4 linked regions of the Homo sapiens genome follow. The protein of the gene in region 4 interacts with the protein of the main gene of each other region in a pairwise test. Each region holds a gene or a part of one and is shown on either strand. Other genes may lie near its edges. The genes, in order: YTHDC1, PPP6R3, PPP6R1 and ANKRD28.

What was found.
Region 1: the proteins of ANKRD28 (region 4) and YTHDC1 interact in binary tests that used the Homo sapiens proteins (3 or more experiments, as listed by UniProt).
Region 2: the proteins of ANKRD28 (region 4) and PPP6R3 interact in binary tests that used the Homo sapiens proteins (3 or more experiments, as listed by UniProt).
Region 3: the proteins of ANKRD28 (region 4) and PPP6R1 interact in binary tests that used the Homo sapiens proteins (3 or more experiments, as listed by UniProt).

Annotation. Positions count from the first base shown.
Region 1 is NC_000004.12:68,340,069-68,347,093, forward strand, and holds part of YTHDC1 (YTH domain-containing protein 1), read right to left. Parts: intron 1-7,025. UniProt on the Homo sapiens protein: Regulator of alternative splicing that specifically recognizes and binds N6-methyladenosine (m6A)-containing RNAs.
Region 2 is NC_000011.10:68,456,473-68,463,766, reverse strand, and holds the start of PPP6R3 (serine/threonine-protein phosphatase 6 regulatory subunit 3), read right to left. Parts: upstream 3,016-7,294; 5' UTR 2,940-3,015; intron 2,141-2,939; exon of another isoform or gene 2,067-2,140; intron 1-2,066.
Region 3 is NC_000019.10:55,242,006-55,249,030, forward strand, and holds part of PPP6R1 (serine/threonine-protein phosphatase 6 regulatory subunit 1), read right to left. Parts: intron 5,105-7,025; coding exon of another isoform or gene 5,099-5,104; coding exon 4,872-5,098; intron 3,674-4,871; coding exon 3,487-3,673; intron 3,398-3,486; coding exon 3,260-3,397; intron 3,246-3,259; exon of another isoform or gene 3,181-3,245; coding exon 3,115-3,180; intron 484-3,114; coding exon 371-483; intron 275-370; coding exon 161-274; intron 1-160. UniProt on the Homo sapiens protein: Regulatory subunit of protein phosphatase 6 (PP6). May function as a scaffolding PP6 subunit. Involved in the PP6-mediated dephosphorylation of NFKBIE opposing its degradation in response to TNF-alpha.
Region 4 is NC_000003.12:15,794,968-15,801,854, reverse strand, and holds the start of ANKRD28 (serine/threonine-protein phosphatase 6 regulatory ankyrin repeat subunit A), read left to right. Parts: upstream 1-3,875; 5' UTR 3,876-5,333; coding exon 5,334-5,450; coding exon of another isoform or gene 5,451-5,459; intron 5,460-6,548; coding exon 6,549-6,632; intron 6,633-6,887. UniProt on the Homo sapiens protein: Regulatory subunit of protein phosphatase 6 (PP6) that may be involved in the recognition of phosphoprotein substrates. Involved in the PP6-mediated dephosphorylation of NFKBIE opposing its degradation in response to TNF-alpha.

The sequences.
Region 1 (7,025 bases), on a different chromosome or scaffold from region 4:
AGAACAATTACATTTGTGGCTTCAGGAAAAAAACAAAGCCCACATGAATTACAGAAAGGTCTATTAATTAACCTGGGGGCTATAAACAGGTTAAATGGGATTCAAATTTTCCCCAAAGTGGGAAAGAAATCTGTGACTGAAGAGAATAGTTAATACAAACGATAAGGTTACATAGGAAATGGAAAAGATATCATTTTCCTTTACATTTGGAAACAGACACAATCTAAAGATATCTGAAAATTACTATGTCTGGAATAGCAAAATTGATCATTTTGGGTGGTACCAATGCTGATATGTACTTTCTATCATTTTTCTAAAATGAAAACAGGCTATATGGGTTTTTATTTTTGTTTACTTTTAAAAAATCTTATTTAAAATCAAGATATGTCAAACAAAAAAGCTTCTCTCATCATCTAGATTCATGTTTTTGCTAAGAAAAATTTCTTCAAGATCTGAATGGTGGCAAACACCATTTTCGGACTCTAAATTATAAAAAAAATAGTCTGATAGAAGTAAATCAATGTTTTACAGATGTTTAATAAGTACTGGGTCAAAGCTCACTAATCAGTAAAAAAGTAGATCCAACAGGTCTTCACAGAATCAAATACATTTGTAGAAGACAAAAAGAAAAAATTTCAAGACTATCACAATGAAACAGGCAAATAATGCTATACAAATCTTTTCATAAAATCACTAGATCTTATTCAGAAATATCATCCCCGAACCCTGAACATTTATATTATATACTTTAGACATGCTAAATTTAATACAGAATGAAATAATTTTGCAGAATGTTAATTTAAATAAATTTAAGTTTCAAACACACTTAAAGCCTGGTTTTCCTATAAAAAGGGGTATTACTGTTTTAAAGTTTTAACGAATTCAAATTCAGATACTGGTTGTAGTTTTAGAAAGCACCTACAACCTTTTTCAAGACAACAAATATTAACCAATGCTTACTACTTTTTAAAAATACTTTGTCACTTTTAAAATTTTATCACTTTTAAAATATATCATATATACAAATCATATAAAATAGAGCATGTTTAATCATTCATTACTTTGCAGATAAAGAAAGAGAAGCTCAAATGTTCCAGTTGACCAAATACACTTGTCTAGTAACAAATGGATATTAGTATGAAGTTCCGGCTTTAGAAATTGACAGTTAAATCAGATGGGGAACAATAAAAGCAACTTTAACCAAAGTATAAAGAACACAAATGCAAAATATTAAAAGGGCATATATACTAGAACATAAATTTCAAATTAGTGCACCAGAAAGCTCTATATCTTTAACATTACAACATTTAAAATCTACTGAAATATTCAAAATCAACTATAACACCCTCACTTAAATGATGTACACACTTTTATCCGTATTATAGTCCATAACATCAATAAACTGTGTGGTTTTACCACAAACTGGCAAACTAAAACCTACAGGATAAACATGGCCCATTGCCTATTTAGAATGGCCTGCAAGAATGGTTTTTACGTTTTTAAGGCGCTTATTAACAAGAAAAAAAAAAAAGCAAAGAATATGTCAGAGAACACTTACAGCCCACAAAGTCTATTTGGCCCTTTACAAAGAGTTTTGCCAACCCCTGATATAATACAAATGACCAAATTTTAAGTACTTTTCTCCATCACTGAAACTCCTTATATATACACTGGAATATAATATACAAGGGGAAAAGTCTTGGAGGTTAAGGAAATGCAGGTTATAGCTTGCATTTAGGTATCAGGAAATTCCCAGTCTTTCTGAGTTCAAGATTCTTCACCTCTGATAAGAGGCACTTAAAAAAGGTCAGTTTTGGGGAAAGGAAAAGCAGGACATTTGAATCTTCTATGAGTTTTTCAACCTGTAAGAAGACTCTCCTTCCTTATAACTATTGGACTTTAATAAAACCTGCCTGCCCCAACCCTCTTGCTAATGACTGGGCTATGTGATATATATAAAATCTGGTCCAGAACACAAAACAAAATTCCTTCTTCAACAAAACAGGTATGGTATATGCATACATGTTCTGATTATCTACTGCTGTATAAGATGATCACCCTAAAACTTGACTTAAAATGGTAACACCTTTCATTATGGCTCATGGTTCCAGGGCTCAACCGGGGTCTCCCATGTGGCTGCAGTCAAATGGGGCTGGGGCTGGGGCTGAAATCATCTGAAGGCTTGTTCATTGACAAGTCTCGTTGATGTCTAGGCTGGGAAGATTCAAAGCTGGAGCTTCTCCAACATTTCTGTGTGTGTGATTACTCATTACTATGGCAACCACCGAGTAGGCAGATCTTTTACATGGTAGTTTAGGACTCTCGTGTCCCAACAGAGACGGGAACAGGTAGAAATCCAGCAACACCATCACAGTATTTATTCATCACAAAAGCTTACCTAGCTTCAAACAGAGGGGACACATATTCCAATCACTGTTGACAGAAGTGTCATACATAATACATGACAGATGTTTCCAAAATTACTATAGTTTTATTTAAGGGTAAATATTTTAATTATATACTTGAGGTGCATTTTTAATAACAAAAATTCATTTAAATAGGTCAATGTTAAAGCTTATAGTATTAAGTTATAAAGCTAATGTAAACTGCTGCTTCTGGCCATATTCTTCACTGACTTGAAAAAGTACACTTTGCATACATTTTAATTCATTTTTTTAACGTAGAATGAATTATAAAAGAAGAAACATTTTAATACTCTCACAAGCTACTGCTGTTAAAGACTATAATCATCACTGGCATATCCTTTTTGAAAAGAAATAATTATCTCTTTTAGATATAAAGTAATATCCACTAGTTCTAGGTTGACTTTCTTTTAACCTACCTGAACAAACGTTTTTAACCATTTCCTTTGTCCTGAAATTTAACATTATTGATATTCTATATAGAGATATGTATACTTTCAATTACTTCATAATAGTTTGACAGTAGTATCCCAACCCAAGAATAACAACAGTAAACAAAGATTAGAAATGCCAGGTTAAGAAAAGGCCTATAAGCATACAATTCATGCACTACAAAAATCCTAATTTCTATGACATAAAGCACTTCACATTGAAAGCCTTTTTTAGATGTCTATATAGAGAACTATAGACATTAAAAATCACTTTTTTTTTAATTTGTTTTTTTGGAGACAGAGTCTCTCTCTGTCACCCAGGCTGGAGTGCAGTGGCGCAATCTGGGATCACTGCAACCTCCACTTCCCAGGTTCAAGTGATTCTCCTGCCTCAGCCTCCCGAGTAGCTAGGATTACAGAGGCCCGCCACACCATGCCCAGCTAATTTTTGTTATTTTTAGTAGAGACAGGGTTTCACCATGTTGTCCAGGCTGTTCTCGAACTCCTGACCTCAGGTGATCCACCTGCCTTGGCCTCCCAAAGTCTTGGGATTATAGGCATGAGCCACCGTGCCCGGCCTTAAAAAATCACTTAAAATCTTTAAAAAAAAAAAAAAAAAAATTTTTTTTTTTTTTGAGACAGTCTCACTGTTGCCGAGGCTGGAGTGCAGTGACATGATCTCAACTCACTGCAACCTCCGCCTCTGAGGTTCAAGCAATTCTCCCTGCCTCAGCCTCCCAAGTAGCTGGGATTACAGGCACCTGCCACCACGCCGAGCTAAATTTTTATATTTTTAGTAGAGAAGTGGTTTTGCCATGTTGGCCATGCTGGTCTTGAACTCCTGACCTCAGGTTAAAATCTATAAAATTTTGTTCCAAAATTAAGATGTCACAAAAAGATGGATTTTTTTATAATGTGCCAGTTCAAGAAATAAGCTTAATGAAACAATCCTACATTAAACAGTATTTACATTTAGAGCTAAAATTCAAATCTATCTAAAAGTTTTACACTAGCAGTCTAGAGGATAAACTCAGCTCTTGAATGCTGTTTTTAAAAATTCTAAGGATTTAATATGAAAACCCACTTAAAAAAATACTATTTGATTATTAGGGGCCCAGATTCTCACCTGAAAACAACCAGCTGGAAGAGTCTAGTCTTCTGTTAAGACACAGAGAAGGTAACATATGTCAAAGTTTTGCATGAGACAATCTGGGTTTGTATCTGGTGAATGAGTTTGTATCTGGTGAATCAGTATTACTACCTGAACAAAGAGCATGCTGGCTCTTAAAAAAAAAAAAAAACAAACTCATGATACCTAACGTATTAAGCAAGTACTTTATCTTTATCTGCCAGATTCTGGCATGCACACACATCTGCAACCCCTGCATAACACTGATCTTAAACTTGAAAAAACCCAAGGCTCAGTTTAATACACTAAGGCACAGGAACATCAAACTAGTTTTAGTATACCGTATATAATACTTTGGGAAAGAGGAGGAAAGCTAAAGGGGACAATCCTACTCAACTCCAGAAGATTAACTTCCTTGACAGTTGCAAGCACTGTGTTGTCAGATCTTCCACATTTTCAAGAGGACTCTGAAACCCAGATTTTTATTTGGAATTGCATGACTCTTCAGTGCTGCCTCAATTAAAAATGAAACAGCTGGCTGATAGATTCCACAGTTGGCTGCTAGATTCCTCCGTGAAAGTATAATCACGTGTGAATGTTTTGTATTAATATTATACACAAACTAATAGCAAAATGAGTTTTGAGGTAAAGGTACAGATTCCCAGGATACAGGAAGTAAACAAGGATATAAAAAGAGTAACAGGTCGGGCATGGTGGTTCACACTTGTAATCCCAGCATTTTGGGAGGCCAAAGCAGGCATATAGCTTGAGCTCAGGAGCTTGAAATCTGCTTGGGCAACATGATGAAACCCCATCTCTACAAAAAACACAAAAATTAGTGGTGTGCACCGCACCTGTAGTCTCAGCTACTTAGGAAGCTGAAGTGGGAGAATCACCAGAGTCTGGGAGGTCGCGGCTGCAGTGAGCCCTGATCGCACTACTGCACTTCAGCCTGGGCAACAGAGTAAGACCCTGTCTCCCCGCCAACAACAAAAAAAATCATTATTTTTAAGGCCTGTTCAAAAACTGACAAGATGTTAGAAATAACAAAGCTAGCTGTTTGTTGCTTGGCTGGGGGATTTTTGTTTTAGGTAAACATGGGAACTTAAAATTTACCATAATCTTTACATTCTTGGCCAGGAAGGTCACAAACTTTAACTCTAGGGATATCAGGGTAGAAAATTAACCTTTATCTGGGACAGTCATTTTTTACTGCAGAAGCTTCTGGGTCAGAAGACAGTGCTATTTATTAACATGTGAGGTTCCAGCATCAGACTAAGATTTAGTATTTAAGGAAAGTTAAATACTAAATATACTACACATTTTGTTTTCTAACACAAGGTACCAAAATAAATTATATTTTAATTCATTTAATATAATTTTAGTGGGACTTGGCAATGGAGCAAGATTACTAGAACCTCCCCCTTCTATTGTCTTGTAATGTACGTTGTACATTTAGACCAGTTTCTCAGTTTTTGTCATTGAAAATCGTCATTCCTCCAAATGAAGTTTAAAAACTTGGATTTCCCATCCAAAACCGCTCTTATAAAAACATACAATTTAAGTGCAAAGATATCATTTTAAATTTTCTACCTTACTTATACTATAGGTAAAATAAATATATTGGAGTATCAATATGTACTCTATGCCTTACAGAGCCCAAACTAAAGTGAACCAAGACAGGCAATTTTATCCTAAGAAATTACTATAGTGAGGGCCATAGTATATACACATAGTATATACAAATGTTGTGGCACAGTCATCATTTTGATGTTCAGATACACAAATATTTCCCATTGTGTTACTACTGCCTACAGTAGCACGCCCAACAGATCTGTTGCCTAGGGACAATAGACTATACCATACAGCCTAGATATGTAGTAGGTTATGCCACCTAAGTTTGTGTAAACACACTATGATAACACAACAAAACCGCCTAACAATGCCCATCTTCATTGTTAAATGACACGACTGTGTTTGTGTGCACGTGACTGTGTGCATGTGTGTGCACATGACTGTGTGTGTACATATATATATATATATATATATACACACACACCTGCATGTAACCGTCTGTATAACGGCTGGGCACGGTGGCTCACACCTGTAATTCCAGCACTTTGGGAGGCTAAGGCAGGCAGACTGCTTAAGCCCGGGAGTTCAAGACAATCCTGGGCAACATAGGAAGACCTCGTCTCTACTAAAAATAAAAAATTAGCTGGGCATGGTGGCACACACCTGTAGTCCCAGCTACTAGGGAGCCCTTGGGAGGTTGGGGATGCAGTGAGCCGTGACTGCTCCACTGCACTCCAGCCTAGGCGACAGAAGCCGTCTGAAAACAACTGTGTGTATATATACAGTAGTCCCTCACTTATCCAAGGTTTTGCTTTTGAGGGTTTGTTACCCCCAGTCAACTGAGTCAATCACTGTCCAAAGATATAAAAATGGAGAATTCCAGAAATAATTCATAAGTTTTAAATTGTGCGCTAAGTAGTGTGATGAAATTACGCACTGTCCCACTCTGTCCTGCCTGGAAAATGAATCATCCCTTTGGTCAACAAATATTTGCATTGCATATGTTACCTGCCATTAGTCATTTAGTAACTGTCTCGGGTAGTAGATCAACTGTCCACATATGGCAGTGTCAGTGTTCAAAGTAACTCTTATTTTACTTAATAATAGCCCCAAAGCACAAGAGTAGTGATGATGGCATACTGTAATGACTGTTCTACTTTATTATTGTTGTGGTTGATCTCTTACAGTCCCTGACTTATAAATTAAACTTCATCATAGGTATATACATATAGAAAAAAACATAGTATAGATAGGATATAGTAATATCCATTGTTTCAGGTATCCACTGTGGATCTTAGAACGTATTTACCAGGAAAATAAGGCTGGTAGAGGTTGGGGGTCAGGGGAGAACTGTTGTATAACTTAAACTGAGAAACTCTTAGCTTTCGTTATCATACTGCACATGTCATTTAACCAGTCAGTCAATGAAGTCCAACCTGGTAAATACTCAAGGTACTGAAACACAAT
Region 2 (7,294 bases), on a different chromosome or scaffold from region 4:
CATTTGAAGTTAAGAAAGGAAAGAAATATGAAAGCTGTTTAAAGCCAAGAGGCCAGATCTTTTTTTCAGTACATTAGAAAAAGTAGCAGCCAATACTGGGGTGCAGACCATAACTTCTAAGGACCAAGTCAATGCTGAGTTTTAGTTGAGCAGATAGAAGAGCTTTATTTTCACTATCATTTACTCTTATTTAGTAAAATACTGTAAAATTTTAGACCAAAACACACACACACACAAACACACACAGAGGCTGCCTCTCAAATACTGAAAATATAGAACTAGACAATGGAAGTTGTCATAGAAATAAAATACCGATCGTGACACTTGTTTTAAAGAGATGTTTATTTGTAACAAGCACATAATCTACCAAATAGGTGCAAAGCCCTATCTTTTTTTTTTTTTTTTTTTTTTCTGAGACTGAGTCTCGCTCTGTCTCCTAGGCTGGACTTGGCTCACTGCAACCTCCGCCTCCCAGGTTTAAGCGATTCTCCTGCCTCAGCCTCCCAAATAACTGGGATTACAGTCACACGCCACCATGACCGACTAATTTTTGTATTTTTAATAGAGACAAGGTTTCACATGTTGGCCTGGTCTCGAACTCCTGACCTTAAGTGATCCGCCAGCCTCGGCCTCCCAAAGTGCTGGGATTACAGGCGTGAGCCACTGCGCCCGGCCAAAGCTTTATCTTAAAAAGCTAGGCAACCTCATCCTGTCAATGTTACTTCTATTCATTTTCTGCTCAGCTATGGTCTGATTCTCAAATTCTCAATTAGTTCATTGAAACTAACAACTTTTTGCTTGTTGACTTTGCTTTGCTATACTTTACACAAAGGCTAGAGTTCTAAACCGAAAACAATCTTCTTCCTGTCCTTAAGTTCCACCAGCAAGATACTCATCTCTACTTAAGACTGAGTCCATCAAAACACACATCTCCAATACAGCAAACCAAGTCCCAAGTAAACACAACAATACCAGGGGAAGGTGCACGCAAGGTTTCGAGCACCATGGAGGAGAGTATCGGGCAAGCGGTAAAGGATTGTGAGTTTATTTCTGACTGAGTGCAGGCATTTTGTTCAATGTTCTAGACTCCCTGACCAGACATGCTGAAGTGGAGAATACCTTCCAAAGTATCCCTCCAGGACAAAAGCTATTTCCCAAACTATCTTTGCTGAAGAATACTGCAATCCACGGCACCCTTACAGTTTTCAGTAACAAGGAGGACTTACACTAAGAAACCCTAGTTACTGATTCGGGTGGCAGTCACCCAGAAACTAGTATCCAAAAGCACATGAGGAACAAAGCCCGACTTAAGCTTGTGATGGGCTTTTCTGTATTTAACCATCTCTTTAAACATTATGAGGCGCTACTACTCATTAATTACTCCGGTAAATGTTCCTAATTTAAGGAATGGTCAAAAACCCTGTCCTGAAAAAATTAAAATAACTTATAGTTTTACTTTTTCAGCCCAACTGAGTCTTACACAGAGCTTTCTAAAGGCAGTCACCAAGAGTCGGGACTCAAATGCTCATCTGACTTCCCAATAGTACCTAAACATTTAAAAATCAAATTTAAATTAAACAATAATAGCCATTAACTAGCCTAACCACTAATCAGCCACTGAGGTGACTGTATGTGCCAGGCACAGCTCTAGCTGTTTTACATGTATTAGGGCAATTATCCTGACAAACTTATGGCTGGGACACTTATTATTATTCCCATACTACAGAGAAAAAAAAAGAGAAGCTGGGTAACTTGCCCAAGGTCACAGAGCTAAAAAGTGGTCACTGACTCCACTCCACAGTGAGGAAAACCCAACCACCACCATAACTGGGTCTCATACACTTGCTACTTGAGGCACAGTTCGGTGGTTGGAAACCTGGAGTCCCTGTCCCCCTTGAAGCCTATCTGCAACATGACCTTGAGGACAAAATCAAAGTAAACGTCCCACGAATAAAGGACACCACCCCGTCAACAAGTGCTGCGAGGATGAAAGGGAACGCCTGTCAAGCACCCCCTCCCATAAAAGCAAAACAGACCCAAAGCCCCACAGAGAAAACGTGAAGTACCAGGAAAATGACATTAAGTCACGCGGTTGAAACGTCAGGGCACGGAGGTACATCCAAAGACCCATCCCGTTCACCTATAATTAAAAAGTCTAAATTGTGATCACAGCCAGCAGGACCTCAACAGGAAACACCTCCAAGTAAACAGTGAATGGGCTTCTTTAAGAGGGAGGGACTTCAAGCCACAAGAAGGACCACCCACCCCCCCCACCCCCGGCTCAAATACACCAGGGAGGCATTCGAGACAGTTTACATACAAGCCACCTCACAGGAGTTAAAAAGCCACTGGGAAGGGTACTGGGAGCCTCGGAACTGGCTGGTGTGGATCCCGATGACTCTGCGGCGAATTAACAGAAACCCACAAAACTTGTTTCCCGAAGAGCAGAGTCCAACAATGGTCTTCGCGACTCTTGACGGCGAGTTGCTGCCTCAACTTGACGCGCTCCCCGAGGCCCCCGGGAGGCCCAGCGGGAGCGGAGACCGGGCGCGGGCCGGGCGGGGGGCGAGACTGCGGGCCGCGGCCGGCGGGCGGGAAGGCTGGAGCCAGAGCCGGGTCAGGGGCGCGCCTCGCCCGCCCGCCGCGCCAGGCCGCGAACGTCAACGAGGCACAAAGTCGCCGCCCCGACCGCGTCCCGCTCCCGGCGCCCGTCCTGGCGGGGCCCCCGGCTAACAGGAGCGGACGGGGAGCGGCCGGGAAGGACTCGGCGCCGCGCCTCCCGGGCCCGCGGAGCGACGAATTCCGGGGGGGGAGGGGAGAGGGGCCGGGACGTTCCCTCCCTGAGCCGCTGAGGCCAGGTGGAGGGGCCCCGCGCCTGCCCGCGCGCCTCGCACACCCCGCGCCGCGGCCTGCTCCGGCGCCTCCCCTACCCCCATTACCTGGAGGTGCCCACGACCCGCCGCTAGTTGCGCTCAGGCGGGAAACGCGCTCACCGACACCATCAGCGAAGCGCCCAAAATGGCGGACGTATCAAGCAGGCCTTGAGTTCCCCCCCGCCCGCCCTCTGGCCGCCTCTCAGCCAATCGCGGCCCTGCCCCCGCCCCCAGCTCCAGGCTCATTGGCCCCTCTCTCCCGCCCCCTACTACCTATTGGATCGCCTAGCGGCTCCTTTGACTACATTCCGATTGGCCCGCAAGCCTCGTCAGTCAAGCGCGAGGGGCGCATTCTTTTCCCATGGACTTGACGGATCCGGAACCTCTAGGACCCCGGAGCCTGAGAAACAAATCAGAAACGGGGAGAAACCTGGCTGGGACCCCCTACGCCGTAGCAACAGCAGGTCCTCCGCTTGACGGACGCTTCGGACCACCAATCCGAGTGGCCAATGCTTTTTAAAACTAAATTGAGCCAAGCCCATCATGGCCGTGGAGCCGGAGCCGTGAGGGATCCAATAGGGTGGCGAGCTGGCCGGGCGGGGCGGGGGCGGCGGGGGACACCGGTGGTGACGTGAGCCACAATATGCGCCGGCTGCAAAGGTTAGGCCGGGCTAGGGAATCAGCTTAAGTGGAGGAGCGTTCGTTTAGTATGTGAGAGGTAACGGGATCGATGCCTGCATTCTCCACAGGGGAATTTTTATCAGAATGATTTCCCATTGCGATCTCTTTACCTGAAAGAGGTGGCTGTCCTCGTAGCGGGGTCAAGGTGAGGGATCGCGGAATATCCCTACCTGTGACGCACCGCCAAGAGATAAGTGCCCTTGTCCTGGGAGAAGGACTTAGACGAGAACTTTTGGGGTTTGGTTTTGTTTGAGACGGAGTTTCCCTGTTGTCCCCCAGGCTGGAGTGCAGTGGTGCGACCTCAGCTCATTGCAACCTCCGCCTCCCAGGTTCAAGCAGTTCTGTCTCAGCCTCCCGTGTAGCTGGGATTACAAGTGCACGCCACCATGCCCGGCTAATTTTTGTATTTTTAGAAGAGACGGGTGTTTCACCATGTTGGCCAGGCTGGTCTCGAACTCCTGACCTCAGGTGATCCGCCCACCTCAGCCTCCCAAAGTGCAGGGGTTATAGGGGTGAGCCACCGCGCCTGGCCTGGGGTCTTTTTTGAGACAAGGTCTTGCTCTGTTGTCCAGGCTGGAGTGCAGTGGGGTGATCATGACTCACTGCAGCCTCCACCTCCTGGGCTCAAGCAGTCCCCCCACCTCAGCCTCCCGAGTAGCTGGGACCATAGGCACGCACCACTGGGCCCCGCTAATTTAATTTTTTTGTAGAGACAGGGTTTCCCTGTGCACACGAGCTTCTAAATGCTCCCCCGGGCTTCCCGTTCCCCGCCATATCTGTGCCTCCCAGGTAGGACCGAGGTCCCGGACATCAGGACCCCCGCCCCAAGAGCCAGCCCAGGACACCGAGACAGCCCACGGTTAGACCCCATGCTAATAACCTGCCTTATTCCAAAATGGATTTGAGGCGCCTCTCAGAGTCCCATGAAAATCCACAGGAGGTCACGGCGCGGTCACGCCTGTAATCCCAGCACTTTGGGAGGCGGAGGCGGGTGGATCACGAGGTCAGGAGATCGAGACCATCCTGGCTAACACGGTGAAACCCCGTCTCTACTAAAAATACAAAAAGAAAAAAAAAATAGCCGGGCGCAGTGGCGGGCGCCTGTAGTCCCAGCTACTCAGGAGGCTGAGGCAGGAGAATGGCGTGAACCCGGAAGGCGGAGCTTGCAGTGAGCCGAGATTGCACCACTGAACTCTAGACTCGACGACAGAGCGAAACTCTGTCTCAAAAAATAAATAAATAAATAAAAACAAAAAAGACTGGTCTCATAAGATTATGATATTGTAGTTGTACTGGACTTTTTTTTTTTTTTTTTTTGAGATGGAGTCTTGCTCTGTCGCCCAGGCTGGAGTACAATGGGGCGATCTCAGCTCACTGCAACCTCTGCCTCCTGGGTTCAAGCAATTCTCCCTGCCTCAGCCTCCCCAGTAGCTGTAATTACAGGTGCATGCCACCATGTCCCACTAATTTTTGTATTTTTAGTAGAGATGGGGGTTTCACCATGTTGACCAGGCTGGTCTTGAACTCCTGACCTCAGGTGATCCACCCACCTTAGCCTCCCAAAGTGCTGGGATTACAGGCGTAAGCCACCGCGCCCAGCTGTACTGGATCTTTTCTATGTTTAGATACACAAATATTTACCATTGTGTTACAGCTGCTTTCAGTATTCAGCACAGTAACATGCTGTATGGATGTGTAGTCTAGGAGCGATAGGCTATCCCATATAGCCCAGGTGTGTAGTAGGCTAGACCATCTGGGTTTGTGCTAAGTATACCTGTGATGTTTGCAAAGGACAAAATTGCCTAACGATGCATTTCTCAGAACACGTCTCTGTTGTTAACTGTACTAAGCCATTTTATATATGGGACTTGAGAATCCTTGGGGGTCCCAGAAGCAATCTCCCACGGATACAGAGGGACAACTGTATCTACCAGCCCGTGTACGCGCCACGAAAAGTACTGTGCTTCTGGGGAGGCTGCAGACAGGGCAGACCTTTCTCACATTGATCCTGCTACTCAGAGAGGCATGGAGGAACATAGTCAAGCCGGAAGCCAGCCTGGGAGGTGTGCTCTGTGTGGGGGTTAGGGAGGGGATTCACAGGCTGATCACCTGGGCAGGGCGGGAGCGGCCATGCCAGGGAAAGAGGCCGAGGCAGCAAGGTGGAAGGAGCACACCCCGTGGAAGGCAGGGTGGGGCTGATCTCAGGTCTGGGGCAACAGCTCGAGAAGCAGGTGCAGAAGGGACCATGGAGGCTTTGGAAGCCAGGCGGAGGAACCTGGGTTTATGCTCAGACCATGGGAGCCAAGGAAAGCTTCCGGGCAGAAGAAGGGCTGGCCATACTCTAGAGAAGATGGCTGGAAGCGAGAGCAGGGAGCACCAGGTGTAGCACAGGGCCAGAGGGGCAGCTTGGAGCTGGACTAAGGAGCCCAGGAAAGGTTTCAGAGAGTCCTGGGACTGGCTGGTGCCTGAGAGGGAGGCTGGGCCATGGGCAGGAGGGGGCAGCCAGGGCTGGGCTCCCGTCCGTCCTTCCGTGCTGGGGAGCCCAGGGAGGACCCAACACCCCCACCGACCCTTGCATCCCTATACTCACTCATCATCAAAGGATTTGCCAGTATCTGCACCAGGCTCCTCCATCCCTGACTCTGAGGTGGGTCACAGGGCCATATACATTATAATGAAATCATATAGTACCTTGCCCAACGTAAGTGGGCCCCTAAGGTCTCCACTTATGGTTTGCTTCTAACCTAACCAGAAGGTTGAAGTCAGGGAGGACTTCCTGGAGGAGGAGGTATCTGAGCTCAGCCTGGGTCCTGAGAGCCATGGGGAGCTACTGACAGGCTTTAAGCAGAGGAATGACTTAGAAGCTTTGCATTCTACACAGATTGACGTCTCTACCCTAAAACTTCTAGATTTCAGGGATCACCACCTTCTGTCTTTCCTCCTGATCCTTTTGTAGTTTAATGTTTCATATTAATATTAAACTTTTCAATCCATCTAGACTTTAAAAAAAACCCCATAAATATATGTACCTGCTATGTACCCGCAAAAATTAATAACAAATTATTAAAAAAACACACATGTAACTGAATAGTTTCAAACATATTCAAAAGCAGAGAGAAGAGCAGGCTGCATGCTCAAGCACCCATCACCTGGCTATCATGACTTAAATTTTGGGAACAGACTCAGAGCTGCCAAATTTTAATTTTTTTTTTTTTTTTTTTGAGATGGAGTCTTGCTTTGTTGCCCAGGCTGGAGTGCATTGGCACAATCTTGGCTCACTGCAACCTCTGCCTCCCAGGTTCCAGCGACTCTCCTTCCTCTGCCTTCTGAGTAGCTGGGATTACAGGCACACACCACCACGCCCAGCTAATTTTGTGTTTTAAGTAGAGACAGGGTTTCACCACGTTGGCCAGGCTGGTCTTGAACTCCTGACCTCCAGTGATCCGCTTGCCTTGGCCTCCCAAAGTGCTAGGATTACAGGAATGAGCCACCACACCCGGCCCCCAATTTTAATTCTGTAATGATTTTTTTTAAGTATTTACTATTATCATAATTTCATAAAAGAAAGGACATGCTAACACACACATACACTAACACAGGAAAAACTAGCTCTGAATAAAGAAGAGCTTAAATTGAAGAAGTTCAGGCCGGGTGTGTGGCTCACACCTGTAATTCCTGCACTTTGGGAGGCCAAGGTGGGCGGATCACCTGAGGTCTGGAGTTTGAGGCCAACATGGAGA
Region 3 (7,025 bases), on a different chromosome or scaffold from region 4:
CTCGGCCCCGTACTGTCCACTGTGCAGGGAGCACAGGCAGCCACAGAGCAAGGTGCCACGGGCGGGGATTTCTCTTGGTGGACACCGAGACCCGCCTCTGAGGGGCCGGAGAGCCCCTGGGGATGGGCAGCATGCATGGTCTGTGGCCCGTATCCCTCACCTCGGCCTCCTGGGCTCCAGCAGGGTCAGCAGCACCTGGATCCCACTGACGATGACAGACTGGCTCTGCTCCCCCTCGAACATGTTGCTTAAGAGCTGCTCAATCGTCTCCTGCCTGCGGGGGCAGGGGCAGGGGTCAGGGTGAGGGGCCAGGGGCCCAGGGCTTCCCCAAGTCAGCTCCCCCCAGCCTTAGCCTTGCCCGCACACCCACTTCTCCAGGGTGGCCAGCAGTTGGTCAGGCTCTGGGCTGTCCTGGACTTGGATCATCTGCTCCCGGCTCAGGCGGATGATGTCACACAGGGACTGGGATGCGTTGGAATGTTGCTGGAACGGGGAGAGACAGGTGAGGATCCTGGTCGGGCCACCGGGCCCTCTGCAGCCTGGTGCTGGGAGCCCCTCCCATGAGCTGACCATCCAGGGAAAAATGGTCACCCAGACACAGGGACACGTGTTACGAAGGAGGAGGGCACAGAGGCACCAACTGCTGGAGGGAAGATGGTGGAGAGAACAGGAAGCCCGGAAGGCTCCCCAGGACAGGAGGCATCCACACAAGGCCCTCATGACCGCATACAGGGCTGGCAGCACCGCCCACAATGACCCAGAAGGCTCTGACTGATGAGTGAATATGCCCAAGCTGGTCTATCCACACAGGAGAGTGCTAATCAGCCAGGAAAAGGAGTGAAACTGATACATGCAACCACATGAATGAGCCACAAAAACATCATGCTAGAGAAAGAAACCACACACAGATCACGTAGTACATGATTCCAATTATATGAAATGTCCAAAGACAAATCCACAGAGACAGAATAGTCTGGTGGTTGCCGGGGGCTAAGAAGAGAAAGGGGAAGATCAGGAGGAGCTGCTAATGAACACAGGGCATCTTTTTTATTTTTTCTGGAGAAAGGGTCTCGGCTGGGTGTGATGGCACATGCCTATAATCCCAGCAGTCTGAAAGGCCGAGGTGGGGCCGGGCGCGGTGGCTCACGCCTGTAATCCCAGCACTTTGGGAGGCCGAGGCAGGTGGATCACGAGGTCAGGAGTTTGAGACCAGCCTGGCCAACATGGTGAAACCCCATCTCTACTAAAAATAAAAAAATTAGCCAGGCGCAGTGGTAGGCGCCTGTAGTCCCAGCTACTCGGGAGGCTGAGGCAGGAGAATCGCTTGAACCTGGGAGGTGGAGGCTGCAGTGAGCCGAGATCGTGCCACTGCACTCTAGACAGAGCGAGACTCCATCTCAAAAAAAAAAAAAAAAAAAGAAAGGCCAAGGTGGCAGGATCACTTGAGCCCAGGAGTTTGAGACCAGTCGGGGCAACATAGCAAAACTCTATCTCTACAAATACAAAAAAATTAGCCAAGAATGGTGGTGTGCATCTCTAGTTCCAGCTGTTCATGAGGCAGAGGCAGGAGGATTGCTTGAGCCCAGGGGGGTCAAGGCTACAGTGAGGCAAGATCACGCCACTGCACTCCAGCCTGGGCAACAGAGCAAGACACTGTCTCAAAAAAAAGACACGGCCTCTACATCACCCCAGGCTTGAGCGCAGTGGTGCCATCACAGCTCACTGCAGCCCTGAACTCCTGGGCCCAAGAGATCCTCCCGTCTCAGACTCTTGAGTAGCTAGGATTACAGGTGTGCACCACCAATGCCAGCTAATTTTTCAATTTTTTGTAGCGACAACGTCTTGCTATGTTGCCCAGGCTAGTCTCAAACTCCTGGGCTCAAGCAATCCTCCAGCCTCACCTGCCAAAGCGCTGGGATTACAGGCAGGACTTGTTTTTTGGAGTGATAAAAAATAATCTAAATTCAACAAGATGATAAACGCTTTGAATACCCTAAAAGCGCTGAATCGTAAGCTTCGGTGGGTGAGTGGTATGCTGTGCAATTTACATCTCAGTAAAGCTGCTACAAAAGAGAGAAAAGAGAGAAGCATAAGCAGAGCTGAGTCTACCCAACGGGCAGCTGCCAGGGCTTGGCAGTGTGGCCCTGGGCCATGCCTCAGGGTCCTCACAGGGACAGGCCCCAGCCTGGGTGAGCCCAGAGCCATCTCTGCTCTGTAAGCCTGTGCGCCTCTGAGGCAGAAGTTGGCATTGGGAAGGACATGTTGCTCCCAGTGGCCTCGGATATCTGAGGCTCTTGACAAACACCCACTCTACACTAGGCCCTGTGCTGGGCACCAGGACAGAGATGGAGACCCAAGCTGGAGAAACACATGGACATGGGGTCCCCCAGAGCTAAAGGGGAGGATGTGAGGGCGCTTGAAAGCAAGGCTGCTGGACGGACACTTAGAAGGACAGCAAGGGGTTCAATCAGGCAGGAGACAGGGAAAAAGCTGCCAGGCCCAGCAATAGCACAGGCCAGGGTGGGCAGGGACGGATGTGGGGCCAGCGCTTGGACAGGCGATGAGGAGGGCCCCTCCCTGCAAGGCATTATGTGCCAAGTTCCTGGGTCATGAAAAAAACCTTTCCAGCACTTTCGGAGGCCACAGTGGGAGAATCACTTGAGTCAAGTTTCTTTCCTTTTCTCAAAGGGCATGGATACACCTGGTTCTCAATGCTCTCTTTTCTCACCAATTTCTTTTCTTTCTTTTTTTTTTTTTGAGACAGGGTCTCACTGTGTCACCCAGGCTGGAGTGCAGTGGTGTGATCATGACTCACTATAGCCTTGACCTCCCGGCTCAAGCAATCCTCCTACCTGAGCTTCCCAAGTAGCTGGGACTACAGGTGTGCAACACCACACTCAGCTAAGTTTTTACGTAGAGACGGGGTGTTACTATGTTGCCCAAGCTGGTCTCAAACTCATGGGCTCAAGTAATCCTCCCACCTCGCCCTCCCAAAGTGCTGGAATTACAGGCGTGAGCCACTGCGTCCAGCCCCAATTCCTCTTTTAAAAGTGGGGAAGTGGGCATGGGGAAGGAACTCTAAGGGGAATCCGCAGGGGCATCGGCAGCACTCACATTCTCATCCTTCGACGGGTGGATCTGCTCAATCAGCCGCTGGACGATCTTCTCCTCGTTGAGCCACTGAGGGTGAGAAGGCGAGGGATGCATCGCTGTCCACCACGCCCAGCCCCCCACCCCCAGAGGAGCCGGCCCTGCTCACATTGACAACATCCTGCCTCAGCTGAGGCCGCTCCACACAGGTGAGCAGGCGCAGCAGGAGGTCCATGATGGCCGAGGTGCCAATGTGCTGCAGCAGCAGGTCCACGAAGTCATCCTTCTTCCGAAGAAAGGACACGAGCTGGGGGCACACGGGCTGCGTCATGCACAGGGCCTGGCCCAGCCACCACCCCTCAACCCACGGTGGCGCCAGGGTGGGGGCCAGGGCACCTGGTCTGTCTTGCGGTTGATGAGGATGCCCATGACCTTGCTGAAGAAGCTGGCCAGCAGTGGGTTGAGGCTGCCGGTGCTCTGCAGGAAGCCGTAGAGCCGGTTCAGAAGGGACTCATCAGCACCCAGGGCATCATTGATCTGGGGCACATCTGAGGTCAGAATCTCGCAGGCCACACTGGGGTACCTGGGAGGCAAGCACAGGCGGGTGGGGGCTCGGGTCGGAGGCCGGGGGCAGGGGGCGGCAAGGCTCCACCCTCTTCTCTGCACCGGGCACTGGGTTTCTGGGAACTGCAGAGACCCCTGTCCAGGAAGGGGAAAGGGCAGAGGACAGGGTGACGCAGAAACAAGGGCCCACACCAGGCCTCCTCCACCCTGCTAACACCCAACCATCCCATCCTAGGCTCCTTACCACCCCCAAGACAAGCTGGTCCTGAAGCTCCTGCGCTTCCCAATCCCCCAGCAGCTAACACTCATCCCTTTTGCCTCTCAGCGGCTTCACTTGCAACCCCGTATGCTGCCCCAGCTCCGGCTGACTCCTGGAACCTTGCTCAACTTCCAACCTCACCTCCTGCCTCCCTCCTCCAAACTTTCACACGGTGCCTGACGGCTCCAAGACAAGAGCTGCCCCACCAGCGTGCCACTCAAGGCCCTGAGGGGCCACAGTCTGCTCCAGGACTGTGGGGAGGTACCCCTTGGGAGGCTGAGGCAGGCATATCACTTGAGGTCAGAAGTTCAAGACCAGCCTGGGCAACATGGCGAAACCCTGTCTCTACCAAAAATACAAAAATTAGCTGGGCGTGCTGGCTTATAGTCCCAGCTACTTAGGAGGGTGAGGCAGGAGAATCACTTGAACTTGGGAGGAGGAGGTTGCAGTGAGCCGATCATGCCTCTGCACTCCAACCTGGTGATAAAGTGAGTCTCAAAAAAAAAAAAAAAAGTGTCTTTTCAGCATCGCTTGGATTAAAAAATAAGTAAAGTGTCTTCAATAGCAGACAAGTGTTTCACAAACATACAAAAAAAGTTTAATAAAAAGTAAATAAAATAAAAGGCGGCGAATAAAGAGAAAAACCAGCCGGGCATGTCGTCACATGCCTGTGGTCCCAGCTACTCGGGCAACTGAGGCGGGAGGATCACCTGGGCCCGTGAATTTGTGGCTGCCGTGACCCGTGACTGTGCCACTGCCCTCCAGAGCACAGGCTTGGTCTGCACCCGGTGAGCTGTGAGGCCTTGTGCAGGAGCCTGGCTGCTCCCAGCCTCGTCTTCCTCATCCCCAAACTGGAGTTTACTGACACTGACGCATTTCAGGGTAGCTGTGAGGCTTGCGTAGTGAAGGTATGTGTGATGCTGATAGGGACGGGCTGGCCAGGAGCTGGGGAACTCACTTGTAGCGCAGCCGCTCCTCACCGCTATCTGGCGGCTCCTGGGTGACCCAGGCCACCATTGCTTGCAGGTGGGGTGGCTGCAGCAGGAAGTCCAGCAGCTTGCGGTTGACGACCTTGCACTCCTGCAGCACGTCTTCCTCGTCCAGCAGCTCGGGCAGGCTCAGGTCCTCCCGCTCCAGCAGCGTGTCCAGGTGCGAGCTTGTGTGCAGGTCAAACTTCCAAAACATGGCGCCCTGCAGGCATAGACACAACCAGCGCCGCGTCAGACGCCCCAGGGAGTCCCCACTGGACGAGGCACTGACCACAGGGGCTGAGTGCCCACCTTGGGCACAGCCTCTCCCCAAGTCCCAGCCCTCTGCCTCATGCTGAGCCCGGCCCCGCCCCGGGACTGCCCGCAGGCTCACTGCCTCCATCACTCAGGCTTAAGGCTCCCAGTGAGCACCAGGCTCCTGCAGTTGCCCTCGAGCCTGCCCCTCTTCCCCCATCTCCAGCCTCCCGGCCGCCTCGCCTGAGGTCCAGGGGGTCATTTCACACCTGAGGCCTCAGGCCTGGTGAAGTCCCCAGGTGTGGACCATGTGCAGGGCCTGCGAGAAGAGGCTGGACCCTGTGCACTGAGGGGCCTCGGGCCCTGTCTCCCCATGAGGGTCTGGGTCCACTATCCCTACTTTTGGGAGAGACACTGCAGAGGCAGGGCCTTAACCTCTGGCTTCAAATTTGCTTCAACCTGTATTTGCTCAACAAACTCAGATGCCCGATGACTTCCAGCACACGGCTGCTGCTTGGCCCAGCAAATCCCCCAAGGCTACGTGGGAGGCATGGGGCGGCGGCAGGGGGAAGAGAGGAAGTCTGTGCATCTCCAGGCTGTGGCCGTTGCCTGGACACCACTCACACACAAACACACCCCAACCATCCTCTCACCCAGCACCTGGGCTGGAACAAGGAAGAGGAAAAGTTGGAAGGGAGGGGCTCCCAGAATAGTCACTGACCAGGACCTGAAGGAACCCAGGGTGGGATAGACAGATTCTGTGGGGGAAGAACAAAGCTGGCAACACCCGGCCCTGACCCTGTCCCCATCTGGAGCTGGCTCCCGCCCTCTGGAGGACAGTGCCTGGTTCCTCAGCCTGGTTCCAGCCCCTAAACGCTCGTGCATGGGAACTCACTGGCAATAAGGAAACACACACAGAGTATTAACAAGATGCCAGGCAACTCCATTCTGAGCCCCTGCCCTGTACTACATCACTGCTCCGCAGAGCCCTAGAAAGCCTCCACACAGACCTTCCACTACAGACCTGACCTGTGACCTGTGCTCTGGGCACTTGATGACAATGGTCCTGGCTCTGCATGTGTGCTGTGCACATGATGTCCAAGCTCACCAGCAGCCCCCAAGAAAGCTGTCATCACTCCGCCACACAGGACAAGGGGCAACCAAAGCCCGGTAAGTCAGGCGGCATCCTGGAATCTCGAAGGCCATCTGGTCCCAGCAGACAGCCTTCACGGAGCTCTCACCAGTTAAGACACTGACCAGAGCTCACGCTCATTACCTGCCTCCTGACAACCGCATCACCAGCTAAGGCAGAGGCCACTGCTACCCCCAAGTCACTACAGAGGATGCTGAGAACAGAGCAGAGCCGGCACAAGAGGCCAAGGGTGCCTCTCCCGCAGGCCCTCACCACCATCACTCCCAGGCACAGATGCTAGTCCCTCTCCTCCAATGCCCTTCTGCAGCTTCTTCCAGTTCAGTCATTCCCTCTGCACAGGCCTCCACCATCTCCTCGAGCCCTGCTGACCTGTCACCTCAGTGCCCACCAGCCCCCAGGCCTGACTCAGCCCCAGGCCCCAGGGAAGAGACAGGGAGACGTGGAGCACCAGGCCCAGGGAAGAGACTTCATCGGAGCTTAGGAGAGCAGCCTGGGCTGACAAAACGCAGGACAGAGTCCCACACATGGCCTCAGGCAGGTCGAACGCCTCTTGGGCCTCCTTTCCTCTCCTTCCTGGCTAGCTTGAAGCCAGGCCAGCCTGGGGCCAGGATCTCCTTGCTCATCCACCCTGACCACCCTAAGGCTGGGCTCAGCACAGAAGGTTGCAGTCCAGACCTTGCTCCCAGTCTGCCCGTCTGCCTCGGTAACTCTAGATTGGCAACAATCTTGATATAAC
Region 4 (6,887 bases):
AAAAATAAGTGTCCTGGATCATAAATATATTACCTGCAGAGAGTTAAGTCTGATCTATTATGAGGATTTTGAGTTGTGTTTTGAATACCTAGTGACTTTCTTGCAGTGGCTCTAATAATCACATAGATAATTGCATGGATTCTGGCCTGTGTAGCCTAGAAAGCAGCTATTCCTTGATTTCTCCCCACTCACCCTCTACCTCATTTTCTTTTAACTCTGTTCATAAGACTTTTTTTTCCTAAAGTATATGGATAGATGAGGCGTAGCTCAAGAAGATTGGTGAGGATTCTTGATCTGTCAGAAATGTTTTCTATAACATTGTTTGAACCCACTTCCTTACCATCTTTCACCACAAGCTTTTTATTTTCAAATACTCAGAGACCAGCTTGTTACTTGCCACAGAGTAGCCACTTAATATACCCTGAGTATTCTATTCTATGATAATACGGAGTTCACAGATGTGTAAGACAAAAGGTGAGGTTTAGGTTGGATCTTGTTGCAGAAAGGAAAAATCGTTTGTGTCAAAAAAAGAAATTCAGGTGTAACAATTAGGAACCCAAAAATTATCTTCCAGTGACTTAATGTTTTTATAATCAGTAAAAAGGTTTAAGCCAGCTTTACCATTATGTGATTCCATTAATAGTAGGAGTAAGCTCTTAATAGGATACATTTTAGTATAAAGAATAGAAGGATTATAAAGCTGTCAGAGTTGAACTTGTTAGCTTATTAAAAACTTAATCTAATATGGCCTAAAAAATAAGTACCAAAGAAAATAACCACATCCCCTTGATATTTCTCTAAGTGGAAAAAAATGTTGAACTTACAGTTTGCACAATCTTTATCAGCAGTTTTTTATCAGAAGTACTTTCTCTGTTTCTAAGTTCTTAAATATTCACTTGTCTCCTTTTAAGATGTGAGTTCCTTGAGGGTAGGAGCCTGTCTTATTCAATAGAAGAAGACACAAAACAGTGCTGCTAATTTAAATAATTTAAAAACTGACATATTTCTCTTAGTATTTTTTATCTGCTTTTGATTTTATAATATACCATGGGCTAGTACTTTCTATCCTTTTTCCCAAAGGAATTTTACAGTCCCTAAACTGTAAAATCTAGTGAAGGTAGAAGAATGGAAGAACCTGTAGTCTTTCTTGCCTAAGTTTACTGCTCCCTCTCCCCAATTAACACTTAGTATGTGCTTGTCTAGTTACTAGAGTCTAAAATGAGCTTTTAGCAGACTCTCAAGAGATCACTGAAAAGTGTGGGGACTTGGCAACTGAATGGGATCTCCAGACATTAATCTGAATTACCTCACTTGTACTGGGTCAAGAGGAGGAGGAGTTTAATAGCCTTTGATCCACTCACTGGCTTCACAAGGGATATCATTCAGCTATCCCAAATATCCATAACAGTAAGGTTATCTTGTTTAGATTTCACAACACTATGAAGTAAATTCTGTTAATGTCATTTAATAGATGTTAAAATGAGCACAGAGAGGTTACTAAATAAGTGAGTAGCCCAGGATCCCAGAATTAGGTTAGTGGGAAGCCTGGATTAGAACTTCAGGCAATTTGACCACAAAATAGCCTACATTCTCAAGCACTGTACTGTTACTCTATTTCTCTTAGACAAAAATCTTTGCAGGTTATTTTTTTCTTATATAAGTGTCAAGAAATTTAGGCTTAGGGAATTTAAGTGGTTTGTCCAAGGACACAGCTAGGAAATGATGGAAGCAGAATTGAACTTCAGGTGGGCTGACTCCTGAGCCCTTAGTTTTAACCATCACCCCATACCTTTGTTTTATATCCTGTCAACTTCTGAAATTTTAATTGTTCACTTATTAGAGATATGAAACTCACTTTGTTGCACCTTAATGCCACCTATATTTTCTGGTTAAAATATATGTATACCAACACACCCCCACTATTCTTGTTTATAAATCTCCACCCTTCCAGAGTCTCGTGACGACAGAATTCATTTCAATGAAATTATTTATAGGTGGAAGAAAGTGGAAGGAGACAATATGTATGAACACAGTCCCTACCTTCAAGGAGTTTGTTTTCTGGTTGGGAAAGACCTAAGTGTGGAGGTTGACTTAGAACAAGAAACAGGATGTACCTGCTTAAGTCTAAGTAGGTGAACTTAGGTACTAGATACTTTGGAACAAGTTAAGATTGTTAAGATAAAAAGAGATTTTGCTTTGTGGGCTTGGGAACCCTGAAGATGAAATATAGGATATTGTTACTATAGTTGTTTCACTTTCAGATATTTCAAATATTAAGATTTTTTGATTCAGCTATGTGGAGATGGATAACATAATTGATGTATGTTCAATATTTACATACCTTTAATTTGGCATAAAAGTATTTTATATATTTTAAAATATAACTAATGAATTGTTAGCATGTTTTAATTGGTACAAATATGTTAGAGTTATTGCTTCTTCCATAGATTGATACATTTTATAGCTTTCAATGGTTCTTGTTTTAAATTCTGACATTCTTATATTTGTATCATGCTGGGATTTTTTGTTTTTTTTTTCCTTTTTATGGTTTTAAGACTTGCTTTGAAGTACCCATTTAAAAATAACTCGTTTTAGAATATAGCAATAAATAGTATATTCCTTTGTTACCTAAACTTTTCACAACCTTTATAGGTTACCTGTTTGTTAAGATCACTTTTATAAGCTAGTATTACAGGTTGCAAAGATCTGGAGATGAGTGGAGAGAAGAGAGTGTGTCTGTATGTGTGTGTACTCAGTGATAGCAGAATAGATTAGAAAGAGTATGTGTTTAAAATAACACACAACTTTATTAATTTATACAACTTTGGGTAAAATACATCATTTCTGAGTCTGTTTTTCCCTCTATAATGGGAATACAGCAAGGTTATTGTATTAAATGAGAATGTACAGCACATAGCATATCACAGATGTTCAAAAGTAACTATTATGTTTATTATTGTTTATTAATAAAAATGCTAGTTAATATGAAGAACACAGATTGAAGGGGGACCATGGTATTTTCTTTGTAAGTTTTCTCTTGAGAAATATCCCCCATGTTGGGTAAACAGAGAAAGAAGAAAAAAAACGATGAAATGATTGGCTTTGACATTTATTTATGGCTTTGGGAAATTTATAGGGAGGGAGATTATTTGTATTACCCTGTGCCCTTTTGACATAGGTAATTCAGGACGAAGGACATTTTTTTTTTCATGTACCTCTTTAACAGATTTTTAAGGCTTTATTCCCTATCCAAATGGGAAGGTAGGATTATTTTATTTCTTCAGTGAAAAATCAAATGATTTATATAATTTTAGAGTTAGGATTTCTACATTATGAAATTTTTGCTTTTCCCTTTAAAATATGAATCAATGATTGATTAAATTCACCAATTTAGAAATTGTTAGACAATCTTAAATTTCATTTGTTTAAGCTTTGCATTCTAGAAAATAAAATACACCTGGCAGATTAAAACTGATCTTGGTAAAAATATGAATAAAACAATTTCATGGTTTTTATAATCTAATAAAATATTTCTCCATCTTTAAACCTTTTTTATGAGTCCATTGCAGGCATATTCTTACTGCAACTGTCATTATAGGGTTAAACATTTGCTTTATTGTAACACACGAAAGCAGTTAAGCCGTTTGGAATTGTTTACTTGCTAAAACCACTGTTAGTCAGCAGAGGCAGTACACCAGATTTCCTTGTGGCTTTTAGTGGAAAATGTTAAAAGCGCACTCATTTTTCAGTTATAGAATTTTTTAGTTTGATTTGGATTAGTCACAGAACTGGCATGAACCTTCTAATTGTGAAGGCTGTCCAAATGCACTATTTTTTTCTCCTGCTAGAGGAAGTTACATCCCGAGAAGTAGCTCAGATCTCTGGTAAGTGTAACATGTGAGCATTACTAGGCATTTCATCCTGTGGGTCTGCAGTCTTTGCTCTTCAGACTGTTGCTCCGTTGGAATGCTTCTGTGGGACTGATACTGAGGTTCTATAGATATTTTTTAAGGACCTACTCATTTGGGGATGTCAGTGGTGTTTTGCAAGATCATCTGAGGAACAGGAAAGCATTTGAAATCTGAAAAGGATAACTGTGGCGGTTTTCACAGTGGAAGGAAACTATATTGGCAAAGAGGCAGATGACTGAATAAAGTAGTTGGCTCAAAGAAGATGCACAGTCTGCTATTTTTTTCTCTGAATGAAGACTGTTTAATGGAAGCTGTATTCATGTGGAGATCAAAGGAAACACTGGAATGATACACTACTATGTTTTTCCCCCCCCTTTTTTTTTTTAAAGAAAACAAAAAGCCTGAAGCAGTAATTTGAGCTCAAATGCCTTCTAATTCCTTCACAGCCTGCTTGTTCTACTAGGATTCTCCACTAACACCATTTCTGCCTGGTGCCTGTGCCCTTTTGCTGGAGCAGCCACAGACAACTGCCTGATGGAGAAAGAATGAACGCTCTGCCTTGCTTATGCTATCGATGGGAATAAAGCTAACTGTGTTTCTTCTATTATATGGGAAACCTGGATTAATCAAGCTGTATTCTAGTACCAAGAGTCGTATTGTCTCTTGTGGTCTGACTCATCACATGTAAACGTACTGCAGCTTTGCTATTAATGCAGAGTGGTTTTTTTTTTTTTGTTTTTGTTTTTTGCCCCTTTCCCAAACACTGAAAGAATTGTTAACCTCTGAGCTTCATTTTCAGGATTTGTGCTGAGCTCTAGATCTTTTTTCTGTGAATAGTATCTGCATTAAACCAGTGATGAAGAAATGAAGACAAATTAGAAGTGGAAACAGAATAGTGAGATTTTATTTTTTATTTTCAATTATAAGCAAAACAGCTACTGGTAACTATATGACCTTGCAGGCAAGAGTGGGTATCGCTGTGATCATCTCTGTCACAGCAGTTGTTTCTCATTTCATTCTATATTGTGTGGTGTTGTGTCACCAAAAACAATGATTGTTTTGTGCAAGTAAATTTCAGAGATAGAGCAATAAGACTATTTTGGTAGAGGAAAAATATTTTTAAATGAGCTTGGACTCAGTTTTAGTTATTGACATGTTGGTGTGAAATTTCTTCTTAAGTATTGCAGTAATCCAACAGAAATAATAGAATTTCGTTATATTTAGGAAGTTACAAATTATGTAGTCATAATTTTAAACTTGTTTTTCCAGTAGTACTTATTAACTTTAAAAAAAAAAAAAACCCAGCTGTGCTGTTCAGAGAATGTTTGTAAGTGTTGTACAGAAGAGGAGGAAAAACTACTTGTGCTCTTCCAACTGTGACTTTTATCACATAGCTTGGAATTTAGTGTTTTAAAAGATCGAATGAGTCGAGTGTGTATTGTTGTTTTGGAGGAGGTAGAAGATGAATCTCCTGCATTCATTTCTAAATTGCCACAGGAAAATAAATCCCTACATTCTCCACCTTCTGGAAATGTATTGGTAAGATATGTAAGTTTATATGTTTACTATATTCTACTGAACTAGTAGTATAAATCTTGTTTTTTAAGAATAGATGTAAATTTCCAATAGTTTCTTTACAAACCCAAATTAAAGCAATACGTGTGTAGATATGATGCAGTATTTTTGTATAAAATGCACATTTTTCGTTTTTACTTTTTTGAATGCTGAGATAACATTTCAGTCTTTACTATGTCTTAATCTCTTTAAAAGACTGTTTAAAAATAATTTGAGAATTAGTAGTTATGGCAACCACGTTTCTGTTTTCATTTTGTGGTTTCAGAAACTGATGTAACAAGAATCAGGAACTCTGCATATTTTAGGAAAGGTTGACTACCCCCAGCAACACTAAGGCATGGCCTTTTCTGTAATGAATTTTATGTATTTACATATAAGACTTTATATGAGATTCAGTCTTCATCTTTAACCTTGGTTTTAGTGCTACTGTCAGCTGGCTCCTTGACTAGTATAGTATACCTTATCAAGAGGCTGTATCGTTGATTAAGAAATTATTATATTTAGTTATGCATGTGTTTGTCTTTTCAAGTTATTTAAGTATCCAGTATTTTTTGGTCTTTGATTAGTGGCTATTTTCATCAACTGCCAGGTTTGCTTTCTTGGGATTTGTATCTTTATACATGTAATGCTAATCCATGTAAGATAATTTGATGCCCCAAACAGACCTTTTCAAAAAAGCCTTCCTTCATGGGCTGGAAATTGCTTAAAAAGTTCTGTCCCACAAGTAGATGTTGAGATCACACATTTGTATTTGGAAGAGTCTTTCTTTTTGTCATATACAGAAACAAAAGGCTTCTACTTACAAGAAATAAAATCTGATTTTGTTTATTATACTACCTAAATTGGGTCAAACTGAATTGATTTTTTTTTTTAATTAGGCCTTTTTTTTCCAAGTAGGAATCCTGTACTTTGACATGATTTGGTTTTATGAAACTTCTGGCTAATGTCAAAAGTGATTATTGCTACAGGGAAGAAAACTTGTAGATTCCAGAACTATGTAAAATATCCTTAGTCACCCCACATGGATGATTCTAATGTTTTTATTACTCTCTTCTATTTTAGCCATCACTGGTGCAAGCTATATTTAACGGAGATCCTGATGAAGTTCGAGCACTAATATTTAAGAAAGAAGATGTTAACTTTCAGGTAAAACAGTTAATTCACTGATGCCAGCCTTTAAAACTGCTTTTTAAAATTCTTTCCTAGAATTGTGATTTTTGTTTACAAGACATAATATAACTCTGTAACAGTTGTTTTAAATGAGGGCAGGAAGGTATTGAGGCAAAAGGGAAAACACTGGACATATACTCAGGGCAGTAGCAGCCAGTAGGGGTCTTTTGTTCTCCCAGCTTTTTACTTTGAAATTTTTCAAACATAGGGAAGTTAAAAAAACATGCTGAC